Regions from separate parts of the Homo sapiens genome. Here all the other regions are linked to region 3. Evidence: fine-mapped expression QTL. A gene starts in region 3. Each other region holds a variant in brackets. All regions are shown on one strand. Distances are between the middles of the regions.

Region 1 (8,000 bases), 85 kb before region 3:
CCCACTTCCCCAGCCCACTTGCCCCAAGTTCTCCCCCGGGATCCAGGTGGCCCTACCCTCACCAGGCAGGGGCCCACTTTCCTCCACTATGGCTCCCATCTCTGACACCTTGAAAGGGGTGGCCATGTCCTATGCTCAGAGTTGGGGGCTGTTGGTCCCCAGGAGGGCAGACCTGCAAGGCCCTTTTCTGTAGCCACTCTTGATCCCGCCTCGTCATTCCAGAGGCCACCCACTTACATCTACAACGTCCTTGGAGAGGAGGCTCTGATTCTCCTTCCATCCCAGGGTCTCTCTGGTCTGGTCTGGGAAGTCCCAGATGTCTACCCTTGATGTCTACCCCAGTCCCTTGATGTTCGCCCTTGATCCCTCCCACCACTGATAGCTCAGCCTGAACAGCTTACTCAGCCCATGTCCCCTGTACGTCCTGCAGCCACGCTGGAGAGCTGGAGGCCCTGGGGGGTGTGAAGCCTGCAGTCCTGACACGCTCTGGGGATCCTTCACAGCCTCTGCTCCCCCAACACTCCTCACTGGAGACACAGCTCTTCTGTGAGCAGGTGAGTCAGTTACAGGGTCAGGGTCAGGGTCAGGGTGGGGCAAGGAGAGAGCTTTCTCAAACGCCAGCAGGGGTCCTGAAAAACCGACCACAAGCAGGGGACCAGAAGCACTCCTGTGCCCGGGGGGTGCCAGGAGAGTTGGGAAGCGAGAATGGGAAGGGGAGGATGCTCAGGTCTCCCAGGTCAGACTGGCCCGAGGACTCCCGTCACCACCCTCCTTCCCACAGGGAGATGGGGGCACAGAAGGGCACTCACCATCTGGAATTCTGGAAAAGATTCCCCCGGATTCAGAGGCCACGTTGGTGCTAGTGGGTAAGAACAGGCATCTCTACCCTCAGCCCTCCACACCCCTCGTGTCTTGGCTCAGCCTGTCTTTCCCTCAGCCTGGACCCCCGCAGCCCCATCTCTTCAGCACACCCACCCTGGGCTCCTCGGCCTGGCCTGATCTTCTCATCCCCTAACAGGCCGCGCCGACTTCCTGGAGCAGCCGGTGCTGGGCTTCGTGAGGCTGCAGGAGGCAGCGGAGCTGGAGGCGGTGGAGCTGCCGGTGCCTATACGCTTCCTCTTTGTGTTGCTGGGACCTGAGGCCCCCCACATCGATTACACCCAGCTTGGCCGGGCTGCTGCCACCCTCATGTCAGAGAGGGTAAGGAAGGGCCGGAGAGGGCTGGGCTGGGGAAGCTTGGGACCTGCATGGTGGCTGAGGCCTGCTCTCCAACCTGGCCTGGGTTACTTTAGGTTCACTGGTTTGACCCATTCAGCCTAATCCAGCTGCTGCTATCCTACCTGGCGGGGGCAGTCGGGGCGTGCAGTCTGGCCCTGCTCTGGCCTGGTCTCGTCTGGTTGGCTTTGGCCTGGCTTAGTCTAGTCCAGCTCACTATGACCTGGTTCCACCTGGTCAGGTCAGGCTTGGTCGGGCCTAGTCAGCTCTAGTTTCATCTAGTCTGCTTAACCCACCAGGTTAGCTTTAGTTCCTTCTCCTTTCCCCACCCAGGGCCCCCGTCTGTCTCCCCAGAGCTCTTTCTTAGTGGGGAGAGTAGGGGTGGGAGCGGGCAGGAAAAGCAGTTCCTGGCAATGGGAGCTGCTGCCTGAGGGGGTTCTGGTTCCTGGAGGCCCTGGCTGTGGACTCCTGGGTCCTTTCCCTCCGCAGGTCCGGGCAGCTCTGACCCTGTCTCCTGCCCCTAGGTGTTCCGCATAGATGCCTACATGGCTCAGAGCCGAGGGGAGCTGCTGCACTCCCTAGAGGGCTTCCTGGACTGCAGCCTAGTGCTGCCTCCCACCGATGCCCCCTCCGAGCAGGCACTGCTCAGTCTGGTGCCTGTGCAGAGGGAGCTACTTCGAAGGCGCTATCAGTCCAGCCCTGCCAAGCCAGACTCCAGCTTCTACAAGGGCCTAGGTACCTGCCCTTCCCAGCTGAGGCTTTCTGAGCCCCCACCGACCCCCAGACACCTCAGCGTAGCCTCTGTCTCCCATCACATGTTCCCCTCTCATCGCTCCCTTTGCCCACATCTTCCAGACTTCTTCGCCGCCCCATTCCCATCAGACAATCTCCCCTACACCCTCCAGTCCCCTTTCCCCTCACCTCCTCCAGCTACTCCCTCTGACCATGCTCTTATCCTCCACCACAGACTTAAATGGGGGCCCAGATGACCCTCTGCAGCAGACAGGCCAGCTCTTCGGGGGCCTGGTGCGTGATATCCGGCGCCGCTACCCCTATTACCTGAGTGACATCACAGATGCATTCAGCCCCCAGGTCCTGGCTGCCGTCATCTTCATCTACTTTGCTGCACTGTCACCCGCCATCACCTTCGGCGGCCTCCTGGGTCAGTGCCAATACCTGTCTCCCTAACTCTTGCCTCTGACCCTCTGGCCTCTGTCTCAGCCCCAACTTCTGACTCTGTCTGACCCTCCAGACCCCTGCATCAGCCTGACCATGACTTGCTCTATGGGCTCCTGGAAATGATCTCCTGACCTTGATCCCACTGTGACCTCTACCCACAGGAGAAAAGACCCGGAACCAGATGGGAGTGTCGGAGCTGCTGATCTCCACTGCAGTGCAGGGCATTCTCTTCGCCCTGCTGGGGGCTCAGCCCCTGCTTGTGGTCGGCTTCTCAGGACCCCTGCTGGTGTTTGAGGAAGCCTTCTTCTCGGTAGTTCTGTCCTTGCCCCACTGACCCTGTCATGTCCCCCGCACCACCTGCCTGATGCATGGTGCCTTGCCCCAAGACCCTTTGACTGACCGGCTTCTTCTGACCACCCTGCAGTTCTGCGAGACCAACGGTCTAGAGTACATCGTGGGCCGCGTGTGGATCGGCTTCTGGCTCATCCTGCTGGTGGTGTTGGTGGTGGCCTTCGAGGGTAGCTTCCTGGTCCGCTTCATCTCCCGCTATACCCAGGAGATCTTCTCCTTCCTCATTTCCCTCATCTTCATCTATGAGACTTTCTCCAAGCTGATCAAGGTGGGGGCCTATGGGGATGTTAATGCACACGGGAGGTTGTGTATAAGACTGAGACAGTGGCCGGGTGCGAGGGCTCAGGCCTGTAATCTCAGAACTTTGGGAGGCCGAGGCAGGTGGATCACCCGAGATCAGGAGTTCAAGACCAGCCTGACCAACATTGTGAAACTCCATCTCTATTAAAAATACAAAAATCAGCCAGATGTGGTGGCATGCATCTGTAATCCCAGCTACTCAGGAGGCTGAGGCAGGAGAACTGCTTGAACCCGGGAGGTGGAGGTTGCAGTGAGCCGAGATTGTGCCACTACACTCCAGCCTGGGCAACAGAGCAAGAATCCGTCTCAAAAAAAAAAAAAAAAGACTGAGCCATTGTGTCCTCGCACATGTGTCTGTGCAGCATTTGTGTGTCTTTGCTTTCACCTGTGTACATAACCATGTGACTGTGCACATGACTGTGACAACATATGTGTCTGTGTCAACATATGTGTCTATGTCTGTGTAGTCACACATCTGCACACAGGACTGTGCAGCTGTGTTGACTGTGACCACATATGTGTTGGCACCTGCTGCCTGTGGCCAGCACTCTTGCTGAGGCATGAGAGGGTGCCTCTGTGTGCACATGTCCAGTTCATGACCACACATGACGTGAGCAATGGGTAGGTATGGGCATGACACTGAGCATGTGAAAGTACATGCACAGTGAGAGCTGGGGGGACTCTGGAGCCTCTGAAGTCCCCCACTCCCTCCCCTGTGCTTGTCCTCAAGAGCTGCAGGGCTTGTGGATGGAGTGCCCAGCCACCTTGGCTTGGCTCCCATCATCTTAAGCTCTGCTTGCCTTTGTACCTGCATTTTATATGGGAGAAGGGTGAGCCCTATGTGTTGTCCCCTGATTCTGTTGGATGGAGGGTCTTTCTGTGTCCAGGTCTTTTAACCCCTTGTTAGAAACTTCCCTGACCCTTGTTTCCTGACCT[CCAGCCTT/T]CTCATGTCTCCCAGGTCCTGGGTGTACATGTGTGCTCGCACACACACCCATTGCCTTCCATGGCCCTCCCTGCCTAAACCTAGGCTGTCTTCATTCCTGAAAACCAAGCTGTAGAATCCCATTTATCCTCTGTTTCCATGTCAATTGAGGAAGAAGATAGATGGATGGATGGATGAATAGATGGATAATGGATGGACGGATGGATGGATGGATGGATGGTTGGATGGATGGATGATTGATGAATGAGTGGGTGGATGATGGACGGATGAATGGATGGATAAATGGGTTGATAGATGATAGGTAGGTGGATGGATGGGTAGATGGATAATGAATGGATGGATGAATAATCAATGGATGATCAATGGATAATGGATAGATGAATGATGGATGGGTGGATAAATGGATGGATGATGAATTAATAGATGACTGGATGAATGGATAGTAGTGCTGGGTAGAGTTAGCTGGTGGTATTTTCCAGCCCAAGCCAAAGCTGGGAGAGAACAGAATGCCTTGGTTTTCTGCTGCAGATCTTCCAGGACCACCCACTACAGAAGACTTATAACTACAACGTGTTGATGGTGCCCAAACCTCAGGGCCCCCTGCCCAACACAGCCCTCCTCTCCCTTGTGCTCATGGCCGGTACCTTCTTCTTTGCCATGATGCTGCGCAAGTTCAAGAACAGCTCCTATTTCCCTGGCAAGGTCAGCATACCCTCCTCGCCTGTCCTTGCCAACACTGCCCTATCCCAGCCCAAAGCCCCCCCGCTCCAAATTCCTCAGTGCCCTTAGCTTCCCTTCTTTTTCAGATTCCCATTCCCAATTCCAACCTCCCCTGGCCCTATCCTTACCTAGGGTTTCACTCTATGGGCAAGCCCCTCCCACTTTCATGGCATGCCCAGCCTGAGAACTGCTGGGGGAAGAAGAAAGGAGGCAGACATAGCTGAGGTGCAGGACAGGGCATTAGATGCTGATGGATCCCCTGGAAGAGCAGGGCCCCGTGGGTGAATATAGGGCAGGAGGAAGGCAGGAGGTGGGGAGTGACTGGGCACTGACCACTGGTCCTTTCACCTGCCCCCAGCTGCGTCGGGTCATCGGGGACTTCGGGGTCCCCATCTCCATCCTGATCATGGTCCTGGTGGATTTCTTCATTCAGGATACCTACACCCAGGTGACCCCTCCTCCCAGCCCTCAGACCATGATACCCCCCAGGTCCTCATTTCCACCCCCCAGCATGCCCCTTCCCTAGAATAGCTTTCCCCAACCTGAAGCCAGCTGGGACTACCTCTACCCCATCCCTGCCTCCTCTGGGAGTCCCATGTGCTTCTCACAGCCCCAGAGGACCCCTGTGGCCAAAGCAAGGTGCTGGGCCAGGTTGCCACCTTCATTCCTTAACCCAGAGCAGTAGGAAGAAGTATTCTTTGGAGCCAGGCAGATCTAGGCATGAATCCCAGCTCTGCCATCAAATAGCTGTGTGATGTGGGGCAAGCTACATAACCTCTCTGATTCTCTTTCCTCATCTTTAAAGTGGGGAACGAGCAGATGGATGTAAAGGGATTAGTGTAATGATTAGGTACAGAGCAAGTGCTCAATATAAGTAAGTTCCCAAGTGCCTCCAACCTAACTGCCCGACCCCTAGGACCCTGGCTCCTCCTGCTCCCACCCTTCCCCATCCTCCTGCCCTTGGCATTCTTACCTGCTACCCCCTCCCACAGAAACTCTCGGTGCCTGATGGCTTCAAGGTGTCCAACTCCTCAGCCCGGGGCTGGGTCATCCACCCACTGGGCTTGCGTTCCGAGTTTCCCATCTGGATGATGTTTGCCTCCGCCCTGCCTGCTCTGCTGGTCTTCATCCTCATATTCCTGGAGTCTCAGATCACCACGTGAGAGACAGGGTGGGGGCTGGGCCTGGGAGGGTGGGAGGCAGGGACCTTTCCCTGGCATTCTCCCAGGCAGGCAAGAGACCCAGGACTGCAAGCTAGTCCCTGCGGGTGTGTGGCCCTCCCGACTAGCAGGAATAGTGAAAAGCCAGGGGCAGTTCCAGGTTTTGTGGGACCAGAAGTTGTATAATTTGGAGAGCTCTTTTTAAGAAAAAAAAAACGTGGCCGGGCGCGGTGGCTCACGCCCGTAATCCCAACAGTTTGAGAGGCCGAGGCGGGCAGATCACCTGAGGTCAGGAGTTCGAGACCAGCTTGGCTAACATGGTGAAGCCCTGTTTCTACTAAAAATACAAAAAATTAGGCGGGCATGGTGGCACGAGCCTGTAATCTCAGCTACTTGGGAGGCTGAGGCAGGAGAATCGCTTGAACCCGGGAGGCGGAGGTTGCAGTGAGCCGAGATCTCGCCATTGCACTCCAACTTGGGCAACGAGAGTGAAACTCCATCTCAAAAAAAAAAAAAAAAAAAAAGCGCCAGGTGAGGTGGCTCACATCTGTAATCCTAGCACTTTGGGAAGCCAAGACGGGGGGATCACGAGGTCAGTAGTTTGAGACCAGCCTGACTAATATGGTGAAACCCCGTTTCTACTAAAAATACAAAAATTAACCGAGTGTGGTGGCATGTGCCCGTAGTCCCAGCTACTTGGGAGGCTGAAGCAGGAAAATCACTTGAACCCGGGAGGCAGAGGTTGCAGTGAGCCAAAATCGCACCACTGCACTCCAGCCTGGGCGACAGAGCAAGACTCTAGGAAAAAAAAGAAAAAGAAAAAAAAATGCAAAATGACAACTATAAAATTAGGTGCTGGATCTTGGAGGGGCCTGTACAAGCAAAGCTCCCTGAAGCTGAAGCTTCGTTGCCTGCGAATCAGCCTTGAATGTTGTGAAGACATTTCTGCTCTTAAGAGTTTGGATTCTCAAGATGGGGCGGGAGGGAGGGGAGCAAGGAACTCAAAGAGCGAGGGGCACAGAAGACAAAACTGAGCTACAAGGACACCAAGTATGGAGAAGGAAGGAGGGGGTGGAGGAGGCAGGGGAGAACCCTGCTTACCCCTCACCTTCCCCTACCGTAGGCTGATTGTCAGCAAACCTGAGCGCAAGATGGTCAAGGGCTCCGGCTTCCACCTGGACCTGCTGCTGGTAGTAGGCATGGGTGGGGTGGCCGCCCTCTTTGGGATGCCCTGGCTCAGTGCCACCACCGTGCGTTCCGTCACCCATGCCAACGCCCTCACTGTCATGGGCAAAGCCAGCACCCCAGGGGCTGCAGCCCAGATCCAGGAGGTCAAAGAGCAGCGGATCAGTGGACTCCTGGTCGCTGTGCTTGTGGGTGAGTGAAAGCTGGGTCGCGTCTTCACCATCCTCCTGCCCCTCACCCCCGGCCCCTTCCCCTTCCCCTTTCTGTTCGGACCCAGCACCTCCTCCAGCCTCCCCCATCCTGCACCACTTCCCCACATCTCCCCAGCATCCCCTACTCACACGAGGGGATCCTGGAGGAAAGGCCAAGGCACTGGGCTGGGCGTCTGAGCAGGGAGGAAGGGGGCTCCACTCCGAGGCCTTCTCCAGACCAGACCCCACCTTCTGACTTACCCAACAGAAGTCCAGTGAACTGTGGGTTCTAGCCCTGCCCTGCTGCTAACCCAGTATCCCTCCTTGTCTCTGGGTCTCAGTTTCCCTGTCTGCACAGTTGGAGGGTTCAACAGATGTCCCCCAGTTCTCTTCCAGCTCAGCTGCTCCATGACTGATACAAGGGGCGGTGCTCTAGCCATAGTCCAGGGATGTGGGGGAGAAGAAAGAAGGGTCACTGGGGTTGATTTCAGTTCTGGAGCAGCCAAGAGTCGAGCTGGGTTCGGTGTGGGCAGTGCCATGGTTGCAGATGGAGAGGTCAGGGAAAATTCTTAAAGGAGGCAGTTGATGGCATTCTGGGCTGGGGTGAGGAGAAAGGTGTGTGTGTTTGACCTCTGTGACCCTCATTAGGTTAAGGGAGTGGGCTTAAGTCAGGCAGGCAGGGCTTTGACTCCTTGCCAGCTGTGTGGCCTTAGGCAGGTTGTTTACCTCTCTGAGCCTGTTTCCTCATCTGTAAAA
Region 2 (10,400 bases), 34 kb before region 3:
AGGTCAGGCTGCCTGGCGGAGCGCTGTGCCCCCAGGGGGGCTGCCAGGGCCCCCTCTTCCCCTTGGCGGGCCGTGCCACCTCGCCCCTGGCCGCCTGAGCCACGCGGTGCCTGGGCTGGGACGTGGGGCCGGCGCCCAGCAGCCGGAAGGCGGGAAGCTGTCAGCTGAGCGCCGCAGACCAGGCGGGGGCGAGCCCCAGGCGGGAGACATCTGCACCAGCCCATGCTTCTGCCCGCCGGCGGGAGCGCCTGGGCTGCTGCGCGGGGAGCGCGCGCCCCCTGGGGGTGGGTGGAAGGCTGACGCCCGGGCCATCCCCGCAGGCCAAGTACAAGGCCCGAGAGGCGGCGCTCAAGGCTCAGTCGGAGAGGAAGCCCGGCGGGGAGCGCGAGGAACGGGGCAAGCTGCCCGAGTCCCCCAAAAGAGCTGAGGAGATCTGGCAACAGAGCGTTATCGGCGACTACCTGGCCCGCTTCAAGGTGACAGGGGTGGGAAAGGGTAGTACTGCAGCCTCTAGCCCCGGGTGACCCCTCCCACGGCTGATACCCTTATTGGTCCCCAGAATGACCGGGTGAAGGCCTTGAAAGCCATGGAAATGACCTGGAATAACATGGAAAAGAAGGAGAAACTGATGTGGATTAAGAAGGCAGCCGAAGACCAAAAGCGATATGAGGTAGGAATGGGGCTGGGGCCACCCCATTCATTGAAAGCTCGGGAACTCCCCTTTGGTTGGGCAGCTCTGAGCAAGAAGTCCCAGCCTTGGTCTGTGACTCTCAGCAAGTCTCAGCTTCCTTCTCTGAACCTCTGTCTCTCATCAGTAAGGTGGGGGTGACATTGCTAACCTCCAGGCTGACTCGGAGGATGCGAGCAGTTGTGAAAGCACTTGTAAACTGTGGTGCCTGCCTCAGACGTGAGCTGTTAGGAAGTTGCTCACTAGCTACCTGTTTCTCCTCCTCCCTGGCACAGAAAAAGACAGCCAGCTAAGGTGCTGATGGCATGAGGCAGAAGGCAGCAGTATTTTGGGGGTGGGACTGGGGGGTGAGCGTGACCTTTCTCCCTCCAGAGAGAGCTGAGTGAGATGCGGGCACCTCCAGCTGCTACAAATTCTTCCAAGAAGATGAAATTCCAGGGAGAACCCAAGAAGCCTCCCATGTGAGCCTGGGGGTTGGAGTCTGCCCTGGAGGTCGGGGAGGGTCAGGGCTGGATGGCTGCTTTGTTGGGGTCCTGACCCTCCTTCTACCAACCCACCTCCCAGGAACGGTTACCAGAAGTTCTCCCAGGAGCTGCTGTCCAATGGGGAGCTGAACCACCTGCCGCTGAAGGAGCGCATGGTGGAGATCGGCAGTCGCTGGCAGCGCATCTCCCAGAGCCAGAAGGAGCACTACAAAAAGCTGGCCGAGGAGCAGCAAAAGCAGTACAAGGTGCACCTGGACCTCTGGGTTAAGGTGAGAGGGCAAGGGACCCTTGGAAGGAACAGAGAGGCATCAGACTAAGCCAGCACCATCCTAGCCTGGCCCATCCACCCACTTGTGCTGGCTGGTCTCATTCATGATTTCATTCCATGCCCTCGCAATCCTTCAGGATAACGGTCACTATCACCCTTTTATTTTTATTTTTTTTTTTATTTTTTGAGACAGTCTTGCTCTCCTGCCCAGGCTGGAGTACAGTGGTGTAGTCTCGGCTCACTGCAACCTCCACCTCCCAGGTTCAAGCGATTCTCCTTCCACAGCCTCCAGAGTAGCTGGGGCTACAGACATGTACCACCACACCTGGCTAATTTTTGTATTTTTAGTAGAGATGGGCAGGCTGGTCTCGAACTCCTGACCTCATGTGATCCGCCCACCTCGGCCTCCCAAAGCACTGGGACTACAGGCTTGAGCCACCGTCCGCAGCCACTATCACCCTTTTAAAAATAAGGAAACCAAGGCTCAGAGAGGTTAAGTAACTTGCCCAAGGTCACACAGTAAGTAGAAGAATCCAAATCAGACTGCCTTTTCCTCCCCCATCTGGGACCACGGGACCTCTCCTAGACTCCTGGCCTTTGTGCTTCCCCTCTGTGCTTTGGTTGAGTAGTCAGATCTGTAAAGTGGAGAGAATCACCTGTGTCCTTCCCACTCACCAAGGCAGGTTGGCCAAGGACCCAGGAAGACTGTGGGGATTTGCTGTTTCAGGAGTTTGGTGAGCCCCACTGCCTCATCGATGGCTCAAGGGTTTGGTGTTGGGGTGTGGTTGATGATGCCAGGCTGACTCATCACGGGGGCACTTCTTTGGAGTGAGGAAGACTCTGATAGGAGCTTCCATTTGCGAAAAGCAACAGGGAAAATGTGAAAACCAATAGTCTTAGTGGTTTAGAGAAGGACTCTGGGTATCAGAAGCAGAAATACTAGGGTTTGGGCCAGCGCAGTGGCTCACGCCTGTAATCCTAGCACTTTGGGAGCCCAAGGTATGAAGGATCACTTGAGGCCAGGAGTTCAAGACCATCCTGGGCAACATAGTGAGATTGCTGTCTCTACAAAAAATTATAAGGTAGCATGGTGTGGTGGCACATGCCTGTAGTCCCAGCTACTCTGGAGGCTGAGTTGGAAGGATCACTTGAGCCTGGGAAGGTCAAGGCTGCAGTGAGCTGAGATTGTGCCACTGCACTCCAGCCTGGGTGACAGAGCAAGACCCTGTTTCAAAAAAAAAAAAAAAAAAAAAAAAAAAATTAGAGCTGTGTTCTCAGATCCCAGGGGCTCTCTGCAGAGACCCAAAATCTAGGGAGCCTGGGAGGGGTAAGATGGGGTGATGATATATAAATGCTCAGCCCACTGCCTAGCACTGGGCCAGCATGCTCAGTCAGCAGTAGTTGGCTATGTTCCAACCCTTGCCGCTTCTGTCTCCCCCAGAGCCTGTCTCCCCAGGACCGTGCAGCATATAAAGAGTACATCTCCAATGTGAGTCTGGGAGCAGAGCAGCAGTGGGGTAGGGGTGGGGGAATTCAGGGGTGTCGAACTCATGGCTGCCACCTTTGTGTCCCCATCCTGCAGAAACGTAAGAGCATGACCAAGCTGCGAGGCCCAAACCCCAAATCCAGCCGGACTACTCTGCAGTCCAAGTCGGTAAGGAGCCCCTCCCAGATGCAGGGGCGTGGGGCGGGGGGCACTGCCTGGAATGGTTGGGCAGAGACCAGAGACCACTGATGTGCCTCCATCCCTCCAAGGAGTCCGAGGAGGATGATGAAGAGGATGAGGATGACGAGGACGAGGATGAAGAAGAGGAAGATGATGAGAATGGGGACTCCTCTGAAGATGGCGGCGACTCCTCTGAGTCCAGCAGCGAGGACGAGAGCGAGGATGGGGATGAGGTGGGGCAGACAGGGCACAGTGGGAGGGGAGGGGAGTCCTGCCAGGAGGGCCACCTGGTGACTCCACATCCTTTCTCACCCCCCAGAATGAAGAGGATGACGAGGACGAAGACGACGACGAGGATGACGATGAGGATGAAGATAATGAGTCCGAGGGCAGCAGCTCCAGCTCCTCCTCCTCAGGGGACTCCTCAGACTCTGACTCCAACTGAGGCTCAGCCCCACCCCAGGGCAGCCAGGGAGAGCCCAGGAGCTCCCCTCCCCAACTGACCACCTTTGTTTCTCCCCCATGTTCTGTCCCTTGCCCCCCTGGCCTCCCCCACTTTCTTTCTTTCTTTAAAAAAAAAAAAAAATACGGTGGGGGTAGGGGGCTGGAGGAGCCCAGGCCAGGACTCTGCAGCCTCAGAGACATCAGCCCTTGGGGGTCCTCCTCCAGGGACAGCAACTATCAGACTAAGCCAGCACCGGACCAGCCTGGCCCACCCCACCCACTTCTGCACTTGCGGTTCCGGCATGGACAATGGACCGGAGAGTGGGGGTGGGGGGTCCCAAAGAGTTTGATGAGGCCCTCCACACCTGCGGCCCAATCCAAGGTGGGGTGGAAGCTTGGGGAAGACCCATTCCTTCCCAGAGGGGCCTGCCACCTGGACCCCTGCATTGGAACTGGAGGCAGGGAACATGGGGAGGAGGAGGGTCGGTGCCTTCAAGAAAACAGGCACTGCCCTGGTGGCCCTCTCCCCTGCCCCCTGCAGGAAGGAGCTGCCTGGACCCGTTCATGGGGGAGGGGGCAGAAGTGTTTTTTATATATGTGTATATATTTTTTTTTAAGCTCTGAGCTGTCAACGAGACGTTTCCTACCGATCTCGGCTGCCGTCTCTGTTGTCATTTCTGGGAGAGGGAGGGTTTAGGGGTAGATTTGGAACCTTTTAAAAATGGTCTTGATGTATGTGGAAGAGAGTATGTGTATGTGTGTTCCTGTACATAGCATGGGTGCAGCTGTGGATGTGTGCAAAAGAGTGTGAGTGTGTGTGTGTGTGTGTAAAGGGGTCTGTCCTAGAGCCCACATCAGTTTGTTGTGAATCTGGAAAAAGGGTCGGTGAGGGCCGGGAGATGTTGACCCTGGTGGGAGCAGGCTGAGGCTGCCCCGTTCTCCACATCCTCTGTTTTGCCCAGTCTCTGATTCCATTAGGGGGAGTGTGCTGAAGCCATTCTCGGATGCTTCCCAGACCAGGCTCCCTCTGCCAGAGTCACATGCATCCGAGCTGCTGGTCTCCATTGTCCAGCAGGAAGGCGGAAAGGCAGGCAAGATGGTGTGAAGCTTAAAGCTTGTATTTGATGGAAAAGGTCTCCCCTGTTCATCTGAGAGGCCAAGCCTGGCCACCCCAGGCTCAGAACCTGGGCTTCAAGAAATGTGCTGGGAGCTCCTAACTTACACATCCCTCCAGCCTTCCTTGAATCCTCCCACCACCCCCTATTTCCTTTAATTTCTCAGGTCTGCTCCCTCCTCCCCCAACCCCACAGCTGGGCAAGAAGTCTGCAAAAGCTGCATCTGCAGCTGTCTCTAACTCTTCCCAGCCATCTCCCGTATTTTTTGGTACCTTGATTCCTTGACTCTTAATAAGCCAAGCCACCTTATCTCTGTAGTTCTTA[T/C]TTTTTTGTTGACTAAATTTGGGGGGTTCTTTTTTATGGTCATGTCACTGACCTATTAAATTGGGGCTTGGTGCTTTTCCACCTTCCCCCTCTGAATGAAAGCCAAGGAATGGGGGAAGAGCGGGAACTCTGCCGCGGAGGTGGAGCAAGAACGGTGAAGGGCCCTGGTCCCAGAGAGGCTGGTGGGTCCCTCTCCCAAAGGAAGGCAGACAGTCTCTGCTTTGCCTTGGACCTTGGTGCTGGGGGTGGGGAGGCCTGGGGGGGACACTCCCCACTCCCATTCCCCTTCCTTTGTCCTAATCCTGGAATTAAGTACAGGGGTTTATAGGTTCTATTTCTTCCCAAGAGCCCTGCAAAGAACCCCAGTTTCCTATTTGGATGCCCCTACACTGTTGTGTTTCAGTGGAATGTATTTTCATTTAAAAACAACTTTGAATGGGGCACTTTTTCTTTCCTGTTTTAAAAATTGAAAAATTCTTACAGTACAAACAGGACTGTCAGGGTGGGGGTGTTGGTGCTGTAAGAGGTCACTCTTGAGTGCATTTTGGCACTGGGATGGGATGGCTGGGGTGGGAAGACCCCCATCCCCACCCCCAACTTCTTTTCTAATATTTAAGGAGTGTTTTGTAGGATTCAACAACCACCACAACTTGAATTTGTATCATGGGAGGTGGGAGGGAGTGGCTTAGAGGTGTCTGCCTATGCTTAAAGCCAACTGTGGAAGTTTTGTTTTCCCTTTTTTGTATAATAAAGTGAAAAACAAAGGTTTGACTGCTGTCTGGTCACTGGAATCAATGAAGGTTCACAGGGGTGACCCAACAGGTTTGATCTATAAAAATGCTTGAAGCCAATTTGCCTTTTCTTCCTAGAACTATCTTCCTCTTCCCTAAAGATTCCATAGGCAACCTACCTTCACATTGTTCTGTGCTACTGTTCTTGCCCTTTTCTCAATTCCATTTGTTCACCTTGGGTTGTGAGACCACTAAAGATTCTGAGAAGTTGGAGAACAAATGCATTTTCACCCAAAGTACATGGTCTTGGGGAATTGGAGGTGATGAGCTACTAGGGTCAAGGGTTCGCCCTGGGCATGCAAGCCTTCCTAGTGTAGGGCTTATCGTGGGGAGTTGAGGGAGCACGCTCTCACTTTGAGCCTTCAGCTCCATCCCAGGTTAAAGGTTAAGGGTTAAGGATGACTTTCCTAGGACCATCTAGGCCTCTGATGGGAAGCAGGCTGGGCTGGGCTGAGATGACTCACTCTCTGAGATTAAGGGAAGACACCCTTTCCTGCGCAGGCCTTGGCTGGGTTCCTGGAACCTCAAAGGGCTGCAGACCCAGGTCCTGTCGGAGAACTCTCTCCCAGCCCTTGCCCCTATCCTATAGTGGCCAAACTGCTAAAAAGCTTGTTGTGCCTCTTGGCCTCCCACTTACCACCATCCTTTGAGGTTCCTTGCTAAGGTCACCAACATGTTCATTACATCTGGTGAACACTTGTCTTGTCTTTTGCCTTCTTGGTCTACTCTGTTGGTGTCAGCTCTTCCTCATTTTATCCCAGGTGTTCATGTCTCTCCCTTCAACCTCCCATTATCACGCATATGCAACCATTCCGAAAGGTGGTGCCGACAGAGACTGCTCTTCCAAGCTGCAGACCTGTGTAGACACCCTTGCATCCCCTGGGATATCTTGCAGACATCTCATACCTCAAGACCCGAAATGATTACCAAACACTTAGTCGTTCAACCTAGAAAGCAGAGTATTGGCCTTGACTCCTCTCTCCCTTTCACCTCGAGGTTCAATCACCTAGACCTCTCCATTCCACTTCCTAAAGCTGTCTCAAATCTGTCGACCCCTCCCACAGGGTGGCTCCCACAGCTGCCACTCCCATCCTATTTCAGGCCACCATCATTGCTCAACTTCTGCAAAGACCTCCTAAAGCTGGTCTTCCTGCTTCCACTCTCGCCCCCTACAGCCCATTCTTCACATGGCAGCCAAAATTATCTCAGAAATAAATCTGATTATTTCTGTACTGAAAATTTACCATGTCTTACCATGGCCCTACAAGGCTTGGCCCCCGCATTCCTTCTCTTATCTTCTCTCACCCTGCTCTTCCTAACCACTTACAACGATCCAACCAAGTGATCTCTTCTGTTCCTCAAACATGCCTACCTGCGGGGTCTTGGCACCTGTTCTCTCTGCCTAGAATGGCTATTCCTCCAACTCTACACATACCTGATTTTTTTTTTTCATTCTTTAAGCCTCAACTCACATGTCCTCTCACAGAGAAGCCTTTCCCAACCACCTGCTCTAGAGAGGCCTCCTCCATCTTCTTGTTTATGTATTTGTTTATTATCTATCTCCCCAAGTAGAAGACACCTTATCTGCTTGTTCATTACAGTAATCTCAGCACCTGAAACTGCCTGATATACATTTGACAATCAAGAAAGATTTGCTGAGTGGGTGAATAGGTCTGGCCCACAAGGCCCTTGGGGATCTGCTGCCCCCGTTAGCCCTCCCCCGACTCTAGCCACACTGACCATTCATGTCTCGAACATAACATGCTCTCTCCTAGGGCCTATACACATGGTGTTCTCTCTGCCTAGTTAATTCTGGTCTCCACTTAAAAGACCACTTCCTTCCCTGAACTCCTGAGAAAAAAGGTCTCCACACTATACGTTTCTTCAGCAGCCTGAATGCCTTCACACTCAGGCCTTATTTCCTTCACATCAGGCCTTGCTAGGCTGTAAGCTGCGCTAGGACAAGGTTTGTGTGTCTCTCTTGCTTGTTGCTGTAACCCCAGGGCCTCACCCAGAGTCAGGACCAGCTCAGGCCTTAGTGTTTATGAACTGGTGCTAACTGTGGAGACTGGGCACGTGCCCAAAGAGGTCACCACCACAGAGCAGCCCAGGCCAAGCACAGAATGAATAGTACAGTCTAGTTGTAAAGAAGTTTGGTATGAGGATGGCCATGGGTGGGGATATGAGGAAGGATTTAGGTAAACAGGGAGAAGCCAGGAGGATTTTCTGGCCATGGCGCAAATTCCTTAGGGCAGAATGTACTGGGCATATTTAGGTAAGAAACAGATCAGCATCACTGGAGTGAAGAATTCCTGAAAAGGAGGCGGGAGATAAGAGAAAACAAAGGTTGAGGCGATGTTGTTGAAGTTCCTGAAGACCTAGCTTACTTCTCTGTGCCAGACCTGAGTTCAACCACCTTTTGGGTCTCCATCAGCTGATCCCACAGTAACCTCAATATATCCCAGACTGAAGTCATCCTGTGTCCTCCCATGTCCTCCCCTGAGTTCCCCATCCTAGTAAAGGTGTTTTCAAGACCTCCCTCTCCTTTCCTCCACACACCTCAATCAGTAACAAAAACCTACTGCTTTTGCCAGGCCCAGTGGTTTATGCCTGTAATCCCAGCATTTGGGAGGCTGAGGCAGGCGGATCTCCTGAGGTCAGAAGTTCGAGACCAGCCTGGCCAACATGGTGCAACCCTGTCTGTACTAAAAATACAAAACTAAAATTAGCCGAGCGTGGTGGCGTGCGCCAGTAATCCCAGCTATTCAGGAGGCTGAGGCATGAGAATCACTTGAACCCGGGACGCAGAAGTTGCCGTGAGCTGAGATTGCACCTGAGTGACAGAGCAAAATGCTGTCTAAAAAAACAAAACAAAACAAAACAAAAAACCTACTGCTTCTAAATTATTCTCCAGACCATACTCCAGCATGATCCACTAAAAATATAAGTCTGGTGAATGATTCCCCTTGAGGACTCCTCACAGCTTACAGGCTAAAGCCCACAAACTTTTCAACACCTACTTTGCTTTGTCCTGTATTATCCAGCCTGCTCACCTCCTGCTGCTCTGCCACCCACTCCTCTGTTCCAGCTTGATCCATGCTTCTGAAGCTTCCAGTTGGGGATGTCCAATGCCTTCTTGGCCTACCTTCACCTGGTTCATCTCCCTCTATAAGAAGTTTTTCTTTTTCTTCTTTTTTGTTTTGTTTTGAGACGGAGTCTCGCTCAGTTGCCCAGGCTGGAGTGCAGTGGCGCAATCTCAGCTCACTGCAACCTCCGCCTCCCGGGTTCAAGCGATTCTCCTGCCCAAGCCTCCCGAGTAGCTGGATTACTACTATTGCCTAAGCCTCCCGAGTAGCTCCTGGGATTACAGGAGCCCGCCACCACGCCCAGCTAATTTTTGCATTTTTGCAGGCTGGTCTCGAACTCCTGGCCTCCCAAAGTGCTGGGATTACAGGCCTGGGCCACCGCACCCTGCCCAAGAAGCCTTTCTTGACCAACTCTCTTACATCATTTGATGTCTCCTTTTGTCTACCTCTGTTTTCTCTCTGTTGTTTTCCTCACACTGTTTTGCAATTATTATCCTACCTATCTATCCACAAGACAGTGAACTTCTTGAAGAAGCACAACTGTCTTATATCATCTTTTATCCCAGCACCTGGAGCACCGTGAGAATAACAGCTAAGATTTACCAAGCACTTACACAGAGCTAAGAGTTTCACATGCACTGACTTGTTAATCACTACAGCAACGCAAGGAGATAGGACTATCATTATGCCCACTGACAACAGAGGAAACTGAGGCACAGGAAACTCATTTGCTAGGCCCAACGATTTAAATTCAAATCAGACGCCTGATCTGAACTACTCTGGAATATCGCCTCAATAAATGTTTGCTGTTTCTCGGGAGAAATCGGTGAGAAAAAAATAAGTATTTGCTGAAAACTAAAAACCAAAGATGGCTCCAAGTATGTGATTACAGACTATCCTCCTTTTTAATCTTATCTCTTGAGGGGAGAGGGCTGTCACACAACCGTTCCAGGACACCACACACAGAGTAACCGAGATGAAAGCGCCAATCCAGCCATCCACCGCGGCTGGGAAAAGGCCTGTCCCTTCCTAAGGTAAAGAGGGACTGAGAGCGTGAGCACAGGGACACGCTGCACCCAGGGGAACAGCACTGGGTCGGGGGAAGGATCTGGCCAGTGACAAGGAGGCTGTCTGGAGGGGTGGGGGTCCAGCGTGGGTTCCGGAAGCAGGAAAGGCGAGCAGGTGTGGGATCTAAATTAGGACGAGGGGCGGGGAGGGCGCTCCGCGCAGAAGGGCGCAGCTCGGCCTCCGACCTCAGCAGCGGACCCTCATCTCGGCCGCTTGTTGGTCCGCAAGCCTGGAGTGGGCTGAGACCCGCCCAGAAACCGGGAGAACTGAGGCGCGGGCGAGCCCCTTAGGCTCCACAGGCTTTCCGCCCCGAGGTCCTAACTGCGCCCCACTTCAAGTCTGGCCTCTTCACAGAAGTGGCTGCACGCCTCGGGGTAAAGGGGGGAGCGGAGGGTGGCGGGGGAGAGAGCGGGGAGCCCCGAGGGAAGGGCGGGGGAGCCTGGGCCGGAAGGCGTCCCAGGCTCG
Region 3 (10,691 bases):
CGCCATGCTCCAGGTACAGAGCCACATGTTGCTCCAGGCCGCGCGCCGCCGCCACGTGCAGGGGCGTCTCCTGGCTCTCGCCTGCTGCCAGGTTCACCGTCGCTCCTGCTTCCAGCAGCAACTTGGCGCACCTGGGGACAAGAGAGCAAGGTCCTGAGGAAAATCCTGAAGGCTTGGGACCCCTTCAGCTTGCTGTGACACTCCCTTGCCTTTCCACCCCTCTCAGCTTGAGGTCCTACCTGGTGTCCTCCATGAGAATCATACAAGCCCCGCTACAGACAACAGAATTGGAAGGTCCTGAGAGCTACCAGAAGCATCTTCAGTTTTCATATGAAAAACTTAAGCCCAGGAGTGATTTGTGCAGCCAAGGACACACAGCAAGTTAGTGGCTGCACCAGAAATAGTACTCACTGCCTCAGACAGTCCCTCCCACAGTCTACTCTGTCTCCACCCCAAGGTCTGGTTCTGAATCATTCAGTTGTCAGTTGTCTCCTTTTTTTTTTTTTTTTTTGGAGACAGGGTCTCTCTCTGTGGCCCAGGCTGAAGTGCAGTGGTGTGATTACAGCTCATGTAGCCTGGACCTCCCAAGCTCAAGCAATCCTCCTGCCTCTGCCTCCCAAGTAGCTGGGACCACAGGTGGGCAGCACCACACCTGGCTAATTTTTTAAATTTTTTTTTATAGAGACAGGGTCTTACCATTTGCCCCAGCTGGTCTCAAACCCCTGGGCTCAAGCAAGCCTCCTGCCTTGGCCTCCCAAAGTGCTGGGATTACAGGTGTGAGCCACCACACCCGGCCTTATCTCCTAACATTTTGATAGCACAAAATTTTGAAAACCCACTTCTGTGTACGTTATGAAGCATAGAAAATTAAACAGTATGCACCAAAAAAAAATAAATACAAGTTATAATATTTTCTTTCTGTCCCCACACTTAAAAGACCACTCTTCTAAACCAGGCCACAATCATTCAAGCAAAGGCAGGCACTTGGGGCCATCCTCCTCCACTTTCCCCTAGGGAAAACAAACAAAACCAAAGGAAAAACAAAAACAAAAACAGGTTTTAAAGAGTGCATGTTTCCCAGTTCCAGGGAAAATTATAGGCCAGAACACTGTTGTGGCAAACATGCATCCTTACATACTGCAGGGTAAACCAAACATGCAACAAACTAAATTAATAATGATGAAACCAAACTAACAGTAACTTATAATTAAAAAGCCAGAACGGCAGCTGCTGGAAACAGGAGCAGATCCACCATCCTCGATGAAACTCTGATAATCAAATACCCTTTCCCAAAATGGCCAAAATCCTTGCTCACATATTCCAGGTAGGTTCTTTGCTCTGTAGCCAAGATGTGAGTAGCAGCCAGTCTTCCATAAGCTACTGAATTATCTCCTTGGTAAATTCTAATTGTGGGGCTAATTTTTGTTTCCAAATACTAATTTTTTTTTTTTTTTTTTTTTTTTTTTTTAGATGGAGTCTCATTCTGTTGCCCAGGCTGGAGTGCAGTGGTGCGATCTCTGCTCACTGCAAGTTCCGCCTCCCGGGTTCCTGCCATTCTCCTGCCTCAGCCTCCCAAGTAGCTGGGACTACAGGCACCCATCACCATGCCCGGCTAATTTTTTTGTATTTTTTTAGTAGAGATGGGGTTTCACCGTGTTAGCCAGGATGGTCTCGATCTCCTGACCTCGTGATCCACCCACCTCGGCCTCCCAAAGTGCTGGGATTACAGGTGTGAGCCACCATGCCCAATCTTTTTTTTTTTTTTTTGAGGCAGAGTCTTGCTCTGTCGCCCAGGCTGGAGTGCAGTAGCTCCATCTTGGCTCACTGCAGTCTCTGCCTCCTGGGTTGAAGCAATTCTTCTGCCTCAGCCTCCTGAGTAGCTGGGACTGCAGGCATGCGCTGCCATGCCTGGCTAATTTTTGTATTTTTAGTAGAGACAGGGTTTCACCATGTTGGCCAGGATGGTCTTGATCTCCTGACCTCGTGATCTGCCTGCCTCAGCCTCCCAAAGTGCTGGGATTACAGGTGTTAGTCACCACGCCCGGCTTCCAAATACTAAATTTAACTAACACTCCAAAGCTCGCTCAGTAGGGTTCCAGTAAGTGGGGATTCTCATCTTACTTAGAAAGATGAAGTCTGTTGGAAGGCACACCACATGCCTGTAAGAACCCAAGAAAGGGCTGGCAAATGTGGACCACTTCTTGGACTTCATCTAGATCTAGTGGGGAGAGGTCCCCAGCTTGTGGGCAGTGGAGAGTCTTCCAGAAGCCCTTGAATCCTTACCTGCCACCCTGTCTGTTGACCTGATTGTGAAAGTGCAAATACCCTCATGCAGGGACTCCAAGAAACTGCCAACCTTAAAAAAAGTGGGAGGGTTGGTGTATTGGTTCATGCCTATAATCCCAACACTTTGGGAGGCTGGGGCAGGAGGATTGCCTGAGCTCAGGAGTCGGAGACCAGCCTGGGCCACATAGAGAGTCTATGTCTCTACTAAAAATAATACTTTTTAAAAAATAGCCAGTTGGGCCGGGCGCGGTGGCTCACGCCTGTAATCCCAGCACTTTGGGAGGCCGAGGCGGGTGGATCACGAGGTCAGGAGATCAAGACCATCCTGGCTAACACAGTGAAACCCCATCTCTACTAAAAATACAGAAAAAAAAAATTAGCCGGGCGTGTTGGCGGGAGCCTGTAGTCCCAGTTACTCGGGAGGCTCAGGCAGGAGAATGGCGGGAACCCGGGAGGCGGAGCTTGCAGTGAGCCGAGATCGGGCCACTACACTCCAGCCTGGGAGACAGAGCAAGACTCCGTCTCAAAAAAAAAAAAAAAAAAAATAGCCAGGTGTGGTAGCACTGGCCTGTGATTCCGGCTACCCTGGAAGCTGAGGCAGGAGGATCACTTGAGCCCAGGAGATCGAGGCTGCAAGTGAGTCATGATTGTGCCACTGCACTCCAGCCTGGGCAACAGAGTGAGACCCTGTCTCCAAAAAAAAAATCTAGCCCTGTGTTTCCTAACATCGGTGTGAGGCACCCCCATACCTCTCTTCCCACTTTTTTTTAAGACAGGGTCCCGCCCTGTTGTCCAGGTTGGAGTACAGTGGCAGCATGATCATAGCTCACTGAAGCCTAGACCTCTTGGGCTCAAATGCTTTTCCTGAGTAGCTGGGACTACAATGCACACCACCATGCCCGGCTAATTTTATTTTTTGTAGAGACAGGGTCTCACTATGTTTCCCAGTCTGGTCTTGAACTTCTGAGCTCAAAAGATCATCCTGCCTCAGCCTCCCGAGTAGCTAGGACTAGAGGCTCATGCCACCATACCCGGCTAGTTTTTATTTTTAGTAGAGACAAAAACCTCACTTACGTTGCCCAAACTATTCTCAAACTCCTGGACTCAAGCAATCCTCCTGCCTCCGCCTCCAAAAGTGTTGGGATTACAGGTGTGAGCCACTGAATCTGGCCCATAGGTCTTTTTTTTTTTGAGATGGAGTCTCAACTGTTGCAGGGGCTAGTGTGTAGTGGCACAATCTCGGTTCACTGCAACCTCTGCATCCCGGGTTCAAGCGATTCTCCTGCCTCAGCCTCCCGAGTAGCTAGGATTACAGGCGCCAGCCACCATGCCCAGCCTGGCTAATTTTTTGTATTTTTAATAGAGACGGGGTTTCACTATGTTGGCCAGGCTGGTCTTGAACTCCTGAACTCGTGATCCACCCGCCTCAGCCTCCCAAAGTGCTGGGATTACAGGCGTGAGCCATGGCGCCCGGCTTTTTTTTTTTTTTTTTTTTTTTTAAGACAGTCTCGCTGGAGTGCAGTGGCAGAATCTCGGCTCACTGCAACCTCTGCCTCCCGGGTTCAAGCGATTCTTGTGCCTCGACCTACTAGTAGCTGGAATTACAGGTGTGAGCCACCACACCTGGCCAGATCTTTCTTAATACCTCAAAACAACTAGGAATTTGGGCTGGGCATGGTGGCTCACGCCTGTAATCCCAGCACTTTGGGAGGCCAAGGTGGGTGGATCACTTGAGGACAGGAGTTCAAGACCAGCCTGGCCAACATGGCAAAACCCCATCTCCACTAGAAATGCAAAACCTAGCCAGGTGTGGTGGCACACACCTGTAATTCCAGCTACTTGGGAGGCTGAGGCATTTGAACCCAGGAGGCAGAGGTTGCAGTGAGCTGAGACCACGCCACTGCACTACAGCCTGGGCAACAGAGCAAGACTTCGTCTCAAAAAACAAAAAAAAACAGCTAGGTTTGGCTACAAAGGATTCACAGGGTATTGGAGACTGCAGTTGGAACAGAGTTTTCCCAAAAAGCAACAGGGCTTCTGCCTCCTGGGCTTAGCAGATGTGACCTTGGACAAGTTACTAAGCCTTTCTGAGCTTCATTTTTCTCATCTGTAGGATGAGGTGTCTCCAGGTTATTGTGAAGATGTGTATATGCGGTGCTTTATGAACCACAAAGCTGCATGTGGTTGTCAGGTTCCCTCTTCTGGCCTTGTGAGCTGGAGACACACACACACATTTCTCCCCAAACTGTCTCAGCCCCCAGGCACCTACTGCAAGGACTCGGGGATCGTGCAGAGGTGCAAAGGAGTCGTGCCCTCCTCAGTCAGCACATTAGCCTTGGCTCCGAAGGTCAGCAGCAGCCGCACACAGTCAAACTGGGCTCGGGCACAGGCCTCATGCAAGGCAGCGCGACCCCCGACACGGGCATCCAGCTCAGCTCCCTGCCGGATCAGGTGTCGAGCACAGTCTGTGTAGCCTCGGGCTGTAGCGATGGCGAGGGGTGCCGTCTGCTTGGTCTTGGGGGTCAGCACCCAGAACCCTAGGGAGAGCAAATAGTTTTGGGAGGTGGTGTATAAGACAGGGCAGGGCAGGGAGTGGGGATGCTGGTTCCAGCTGACAGCTGACACTGGCCTTCCCTCTGCATGGTTTGCTGAGCACAAACACTGCCAGGCTGTACCTGTGGAAGGGGGCTTATTCAAGTCCTGAAGTGGAAGAATAAATTGGAACAGCCTTTTAATACAGCTTATCAATCTGTAACAAAACATAGTATGTGTCATAAAAAAATTAATTGCTGTATAAAACCACAGGGGCCAACTAAGTAGAGTGACTCCCATTAAGGAAATCTCAGCGTCTTTGAATGGCTAATAGTGTCAAAGGCTTGTTCACCTTGGGGCCTGGGGTGGTGGCTCACACCTGTAATCCTAGCACTTTGGGAGGCCAAGGCGGGATGATCACTTGACCTCAGGAGTTCGAGATGAGCCTGGGCAACATAGTGAGACCTTGTCTCTTTTTTTTTTTTTTTTAGGCAGGGTCTCGCTCTGTCCCCCAGGCTGGAATGCAGTGGCGCTATCTTGGCTCACTGCAAGCTCCGCCTCCCGGGTTTAAGTGATTCTTCTGCCTCAGCTGCTGAGTAGCTGGGATTACAGGTGCGCACCACCATGCCCGGCTAATTTTTCTATTTTTAGTAGAGATGGGGTTTTACCATGTTGGTCAGGCTGGTCTCAAACTTCTGACTTCGTGATCCGCCTGCCTTGGCCTCCCAAAGTGCTGGGATTACAGGCGTGAGCCACTGTGCCCGGTCAACTTTTAATTCTTAAAAGACATACAGACTGCTAACCCTGCCTCATCTCTGTTTAGGAGGGAGCTAGGATAGGTGGTGGAAAGGGCTGCTATAGTCTGTGGTCTGCAGGGAAGGAGGGGCCTAGACTCTCCCCCTTCCCCACCCACTCCCCTTCTTTCTCCCTCCTCTTCTGCCCTCTTCTGGTGCCCCCTACCCTGTTCAGCCGACCAGGCCAGCTGGTTGCTCACAGTCTCCACAATCATGTTGGCGGCCTCTTCATCTTGGAACAGGGCTTGGACCTGCTGCAGGTTGCCGGAGAAGAGGGCTTGGTGGACAGCTGGGTCTCGGCAGGAACGGTGAGGCCTAGTGAGTCGGGCCCGGGGACTTGACGGGCACCTGCGGCTCCGGCACTGCTGGGCAGCCGCCCGCCGCCGGTCCTCCCATTCCAGCCACTCCTGCTGCAGGCGGAGAGAGCGCAGCATGGAGGAGGTGAAGGGGAAGGTCTCTCTTGCCATGGATGGGGCCCAGGGGTTTGGGCAGTGGCACCTGGGCAGAGCCAGGTTCCCTCGACCCGACTACCTCCCTTGCTCTGAGGAGCCACCCTGCCCCCGCCACCGTGAGCCAGAGAAAGCAGCAGCTGAGGCTATAAATAGGTCCTTTGCTGCTCTGGTAAACATGGTTTGCTCAGAGTCATGATCCTGGTGCTGAGAAGCTGCTGGCCCAACCCCCAGCCCAGGGTGAGGGCCAGCCCCTGCCCCTGCCGATACCCTTTGGTTGGTCAGCAGGCCCTCAGCTGAGGCCACCCCCGAACCCCAGCATCTGCATCCACCTTCATCTCTAGAGCGAGCATCTTGGGTTGGCAAGGTCCAGGGTGCGCAAAAAGGTCAGTCATGGAGATGGGCAGGGCTGGGAGGAAGACAAGGTGCCTCCAGCCTCTCTGATGTTGGCTGGAGGGCAGGAGCCACCATTGGCCCACGTGGAGGAGAGAGGGCTGACCTCAGCACAGGAGGTAAGGGGAGGTCAAGGCAGAGTTACTGAGAAGGTGAGCAGCTCTTCCCAGCATCTGCAGTAACAGCAATAACTCTGTACATATGCACAGAGTTTCACGGTGTTTAAATCACATTCATATCCACCTTCACCCAGGGGATCATACTTCCCAGCCCACCCAATAATTAGTAAACTTGGTTTGGACAATAAATGAAATTATCACAGTTGAATGCCCCTGAGATGGGTGGTCTTATCTCTGTTTTACAGATGAGGAATTTAAGGCTTAACAAAGTAATCTACTGGCTCAAGGTCACAGTTTGTGAGAGGCAGAGCCAGGACCCCACATAGATGGTGTGCTTTGGGCCAAGAATGGTGGCTCATGCCTGTAATCCTAGCACTTTGGGAGGCCAAGACAGGAGGATTGCTTGAGCCTAGGAGTTTGAGACAATCCTGGGCAACACAGTGAGACCTATATCTTTTTTTTTTTTTTTTTTTTTTTTGAGACAGAGTCTCACCCTGTCTCCCATGCTGGAGTGCAATGGCACGATCTTGGCTCACTGCAACCTCCGCCTCCCGGGCTCAAACGATTCTCTTGCCTCAGCCTCCTGAGTAGCTGGGATTATAGGCACCCGCCACCATGCCCAGCTAAATTTTGTATTTTTAGTAGAGATTTAATTTAGGGTTTCACCATGTTGGCCAGGCTGGTCTCGAACTCCTGACCTCGTGGTCTGCCCGCCTCGGCCTCCCAAAGTGCTAGGATTATAGGCGTGAGCCACCACCCCCTGCCTCTCCATCTCTTAAAAAAAGAAGAAAAAAAAAAAAAGATGGTACACTTTTTGCCTTCAGCTGCTGCAGCCACCTGGCAGCCTCCCCCATTCTCCAAGCAGGACAGACTAGTCTGTAGAAACTGCCTTCAATCATCCTTTTTTTTTTTTTCTCATGGTGTCACCCAGTCTGGAGTGCAGTGGGGTGATCTCGGCTCACTGAAACCTCCGTTTCCTGGGGTTCAAGTGATTCTCCTGCCTTAGCTGCCTGAGTAGCTGGGATTATAGGTGCATGCCACCATGCCCAGCTGATTTTTGTATTTTTATTTATTATTATTTTTTTTTTGAGATGGAGTCTCGCTCTGTCACCCAGGCTGGAGTGCAGTGGCGCGACCTCGGCTCACTGCAAGCTCCGCCTCCCGGGTTCACGCCATTCTCCTGCCTCAGCCTCCCGAGTAGCTGGGACCACAGGCGCCTGCCACCACACCTGGCTAATTTTTTGTATTTTTAGTAGAGACAAGGTTTCGCCGTATTAGCCAAGAATAGGATGGTTTCGATCTCCTGACCTCGTGATCCGCCCGCCTCGGCCTCCCAAAGTGCTGGGATCACAGGCGTGAGCCACCGCGCCCGGCCGATTTTTGTATTTTTAGTAGTCGGTTTCGCCATGTTGGCCAGGCTGGTCTGAAACTCCTGACTTCAGGCGATCTGCCCGCCTCGGCCCCCCAAAGTGTTGGTATTACAGGCGTGAGCCACAGCTCCCAGCACCTTCAATCATCCTTGATTTATTTTTTTAACCCAGCTGCTAAGGGGGCTCACATGGCCGGCCTGAGGAGAGCCAAGGGGTTGAGCTGGAAACTCTGGGAATGGACCTAAGATGTTTAAGCCACAGACCTGTTCACTCTTAGGAGAAAGCAGCTGTGCTTCCAGGAGCCTCTAGGGGGAGGAATGAAGCCGTGAAACCACACAAGCTGGTGTGCCTGCCAAGCTGGGGAAGGGGAGGGCTCAAAAGCTCTGCTCACCCTGAGCTCACTCAGTGCACAGCGGCCTGCAGGCAGGGCTGGTCTGTCCCCTCTGCATCTGGGGCTCCTCCTGGCCCTTCTCCCGCTGCCTGTCCTGCCTCCTGGCCCTGCAGCAGCACCTTGCCCAGTGATCTTTTATTTCTTCCTCTCCCTAGGCCCTTCCCATAAGCAAGTTCTAGCTCCTGTTCTTACATTTTCAGGGACTGTCTCAAGTTCAGCCCCTCGATGTAATGCCTTAAACCTGGATCAACTCAGTCTTTCACCTGGTGTTTCTTCCTCTGGCCATATCCCTTCTGCTCCGCTGCCGGAATGATCTGTCTAAAATGGTTAATTCCCTTGCTTAAAAACTTCTGCTGCCTTCCAATACCTGTCCTTTCATTTTTTTAAAATAGGGCTCCAAATCCTGGCCTCAAGCAGTCCTCCCAAGTCAGCCTCCTGAATTGCTGGGATTACAGGTGTGAGCCACTGCACCTGGCCTGCCCTTTTCAACTAAGCCCCCAATTCCTTGGTTTGGCCCCATGCCACTCACGTAGGGTAGGCATCCTCATCACGCACGGCTCCCCACAACCGTTCCCTGTCAGGCCATTCCCTTAGCTCAGAATTCCCTCAACACCTTCCTGAGGATCTACCCCTAAGGTCACCTGCTCTGAGAGGTCTCTTCAGCAACCCATTGCCTGACTCTTATAGTTCCAGCCACTGCCCAATCTGCACTCCTGAAGGACTCAGGGGCACGCTGTAAAGCACCTATCTATGCTGTTGATGTGGGTCTGCCATGCTGGATGTGGGCTCCAGAGCAGGCCCTGGCAGTCAGAGCACTTGGCTCATGGCAGGCGGGCCTCTTATGTGTAGTGCATTGAACGAAGGTCCCTGTTCTCTGCCAGAGCAAACATCCATCCACCCGCCCGCCCAAGTGGGTGGCAGCAGCCTGGGCTTTTTCCGGCATTGCCCCTACTCTACTGTTCACCTACTCTCTGCCTGGCTCCAGCCTCTTGGTGGCAGTCCAGGGTGGGGGATCCCAGAGGAGGAATTAGATCATACAAAGCAAAGCCTGGAGGTCCTCAGAGAAAGATGCCTCTATAAATGCAGCCTTGATGAACCCTGTTGGCACCCATTTGGTGTGTTAATTGCCACATCAACGGCCTGGCTGGGCACCCACAGCTGGGTTCCCAGGGTTGAGAATCTGGCAAGGCTGGGTGAGACCAAGAGAGGCCAAGGCAGGTGGGTGTCCCCTTCCTCCCTGAGGCACACAAGAGTCATAGCCTAGCCCCTCCCCTGCCTTCTTGCCACACAGACCTGAAGGAGCTAGGTACCCTAACAGCTTAGTCCCAAGATACCACTGTATTCAGTCCCCTTGTCTGTAGAGTTAGCTTCCTGAGGGCAGAGAAAGGAGGCCTTGACTTCAACCTGGAGGGAACAGGGCCAGGTGATCAGATGCCCAGCCTGCCTTCTGGGATCTCAGAGCCTGTGGGGTAGTGAAGCACACAAGAAGCCAGGATGTGAGCGTGGGATTGATCAGGACTGAGCAGGGGGACCGGGGCTCATGGGTGTCAAGAATGGGGAATAGGCCCAGGGCAGAGGGGAGCTTTTATTTTTTTAGAGACGAAATCTCCCTATGTTGCCCAGGCTGGTCTCAATCTTCTAGGCTCAAGTGATTCTCTCACCTCAGCCTCCCAAGTGGCTGGGACTACAGGTGCATGCTGCCACTCCCAGCTGTGGGGGTTTAGGTGCAGGAAGATCCCAGTGTAGATGGGGAGTTAGCAGGGAGTGGAAGGTGGGAGAGAAGGAAATGTATGGTAGGTTCAGGTAGAAAAACCCAATGGGAATGTGAAGGGACCAGGGTGCAGGGGAATTAGCCCCTTCTTGCCCTGGCCTTGTGGCACAAAAGCCTCTAGAACAGGGCCCTGCTGTAATCAGCAGGTAAGTGAACATGGAGTTCTCAAAGCACTTACTCACTTCAGCCTTAAGACTGGGATCCAGTGGGGCACTGTGGCTCACACCTGTAATCCCAGCACTTTGGGAGGCTGAGGTGGGAAGGATCACTTGAGCCCGGGAGTTCAAGACCAGTCTGGAGAACACAGCAAGACTCCATCTCTACAGAAAAATGTTGTTAATTAGCTAGGCGTGGTGGCACGCACCAGTAGTCTGTTACTTGGGAGGCTGAGATGGGAGGACTGCTTAAGCCTAGGAGATCGAGGCTGCAGTGAGCCATGATCACACCACTGCACTGCACTCCAGTTTGGTGACAGAGTGAGACCATGTCTCTAAAACGACGACAACAACAACAACAAAACTGGAATCCATGGGATCAGCCTCTTTGGGAAAAGGAGATTAACGCTTCCCCCCAGAGGAGTGCCAAG

Direction of the effects. Positions count from the first base shown, and alleles are read on the strand shown. Sizes are in standard deviations (SD) of each study's normalised expression.
With allele CCAGCCTT in place of T in region 1, the expression in transverse colon of the gene that starts at base 6,165 in region 3 is lower (moderate effect, 0.52 SD a copy in GTEx).
For the expression in lung of the gene that starts at base 6,165 in region 3, T is the low allele of the variant in region 2 and C is the other (large effect, 0.93 SD a copy in GTEx).

The links.
Region 1: its variant is fine-mapped to the expression of ASB16 in transverse colon (GTEx, PIP 0.92).
Region 2: its variant is fine-mapped to the expression of ASB16 in lung (GTEx, PIP 0.94).

The regions. Positions count from the first base shown.
Region 1 is chr17:44,252,363-44,260,362 of GRCh38, reverse strand. SLC4A1 (solute carrier family 4 member 1 (Diego blood group)) reads left to right here. Exons shown (of 20, transcript NM_000342.4): 7 at 431-554; 8 at 782-866; 9 at 1,019-1,200; 10 at 1,740-1,950; 11 at 2,183-2,377; 12 at 2,556-2,704; 13 at 2,819-3,013; 14 at 4,517-4,690; 15 at 5,067-5,156; 16 at 5,701-5,867; 17 at 6,992-7,245. Among named protein-coding and RNA genes, the nearest start is that of SLC4A1, 12 kb to the left of the region's middle. RefSeq lists an enhancer at 2,333-3,289. The variant CCAGCCTT/T (reference allele first, on the strand shown) is at 3,982.
Region 2 is chr17:44,200,394-44,210,793 of GRCh38, reverse strand. It overlaps UBTF (upstream binding transcription factor), which reads left to right. Exons shown (of 21, transcript NM_014233.4): 13 at 1-2; 14 at 321-476; 15 at 560-670; 16 at 1,061-1,149; 17 at 1,253-1,442; 18 at 2,883-2,930; 19 at 3,024-3,095; 20 at 3,197-3,340; 21 at 3,427-5,754. The coding sequence ends at 3,552. All of the region lies in intron 1 of ATXN7L3-AS1 (ATXN7L3 antisense RNA 1), which reads right to left. MIR6782 (microRNA 6782) reads left to right here and starts at 2,955; the gene lies at 2,955-3,023. RefSeq lists enhancers at 1-389, 99-393, 1,490-2,689, 3,331-3,831, 9,531-10,068 and 1 more and silencers at 99-393, 1-426, 847-896, 10,262-10,400. The variant T/C (reference allele first, on the strand shown) is at 4,991.
Region 3 is chr17:44,166,178-44,176,868 of GRCh38, reverse strand. It overlaps ASB16 (ankyrin repeat and SOCS box containing 16), which reads right to left and starts at 6,165. Exons shown (of 5, transcript NM_080863.5): 1 at 5,779-6,165; 2 at 4,556-4,823; 3 at 1-131. The coding sequence starts at 6,079. ASB16-AS1 (ASB16 antisense RNA 1) reads left to right here. Exons shown (of 3, transcript NR_049730.1): 3 at 227-896.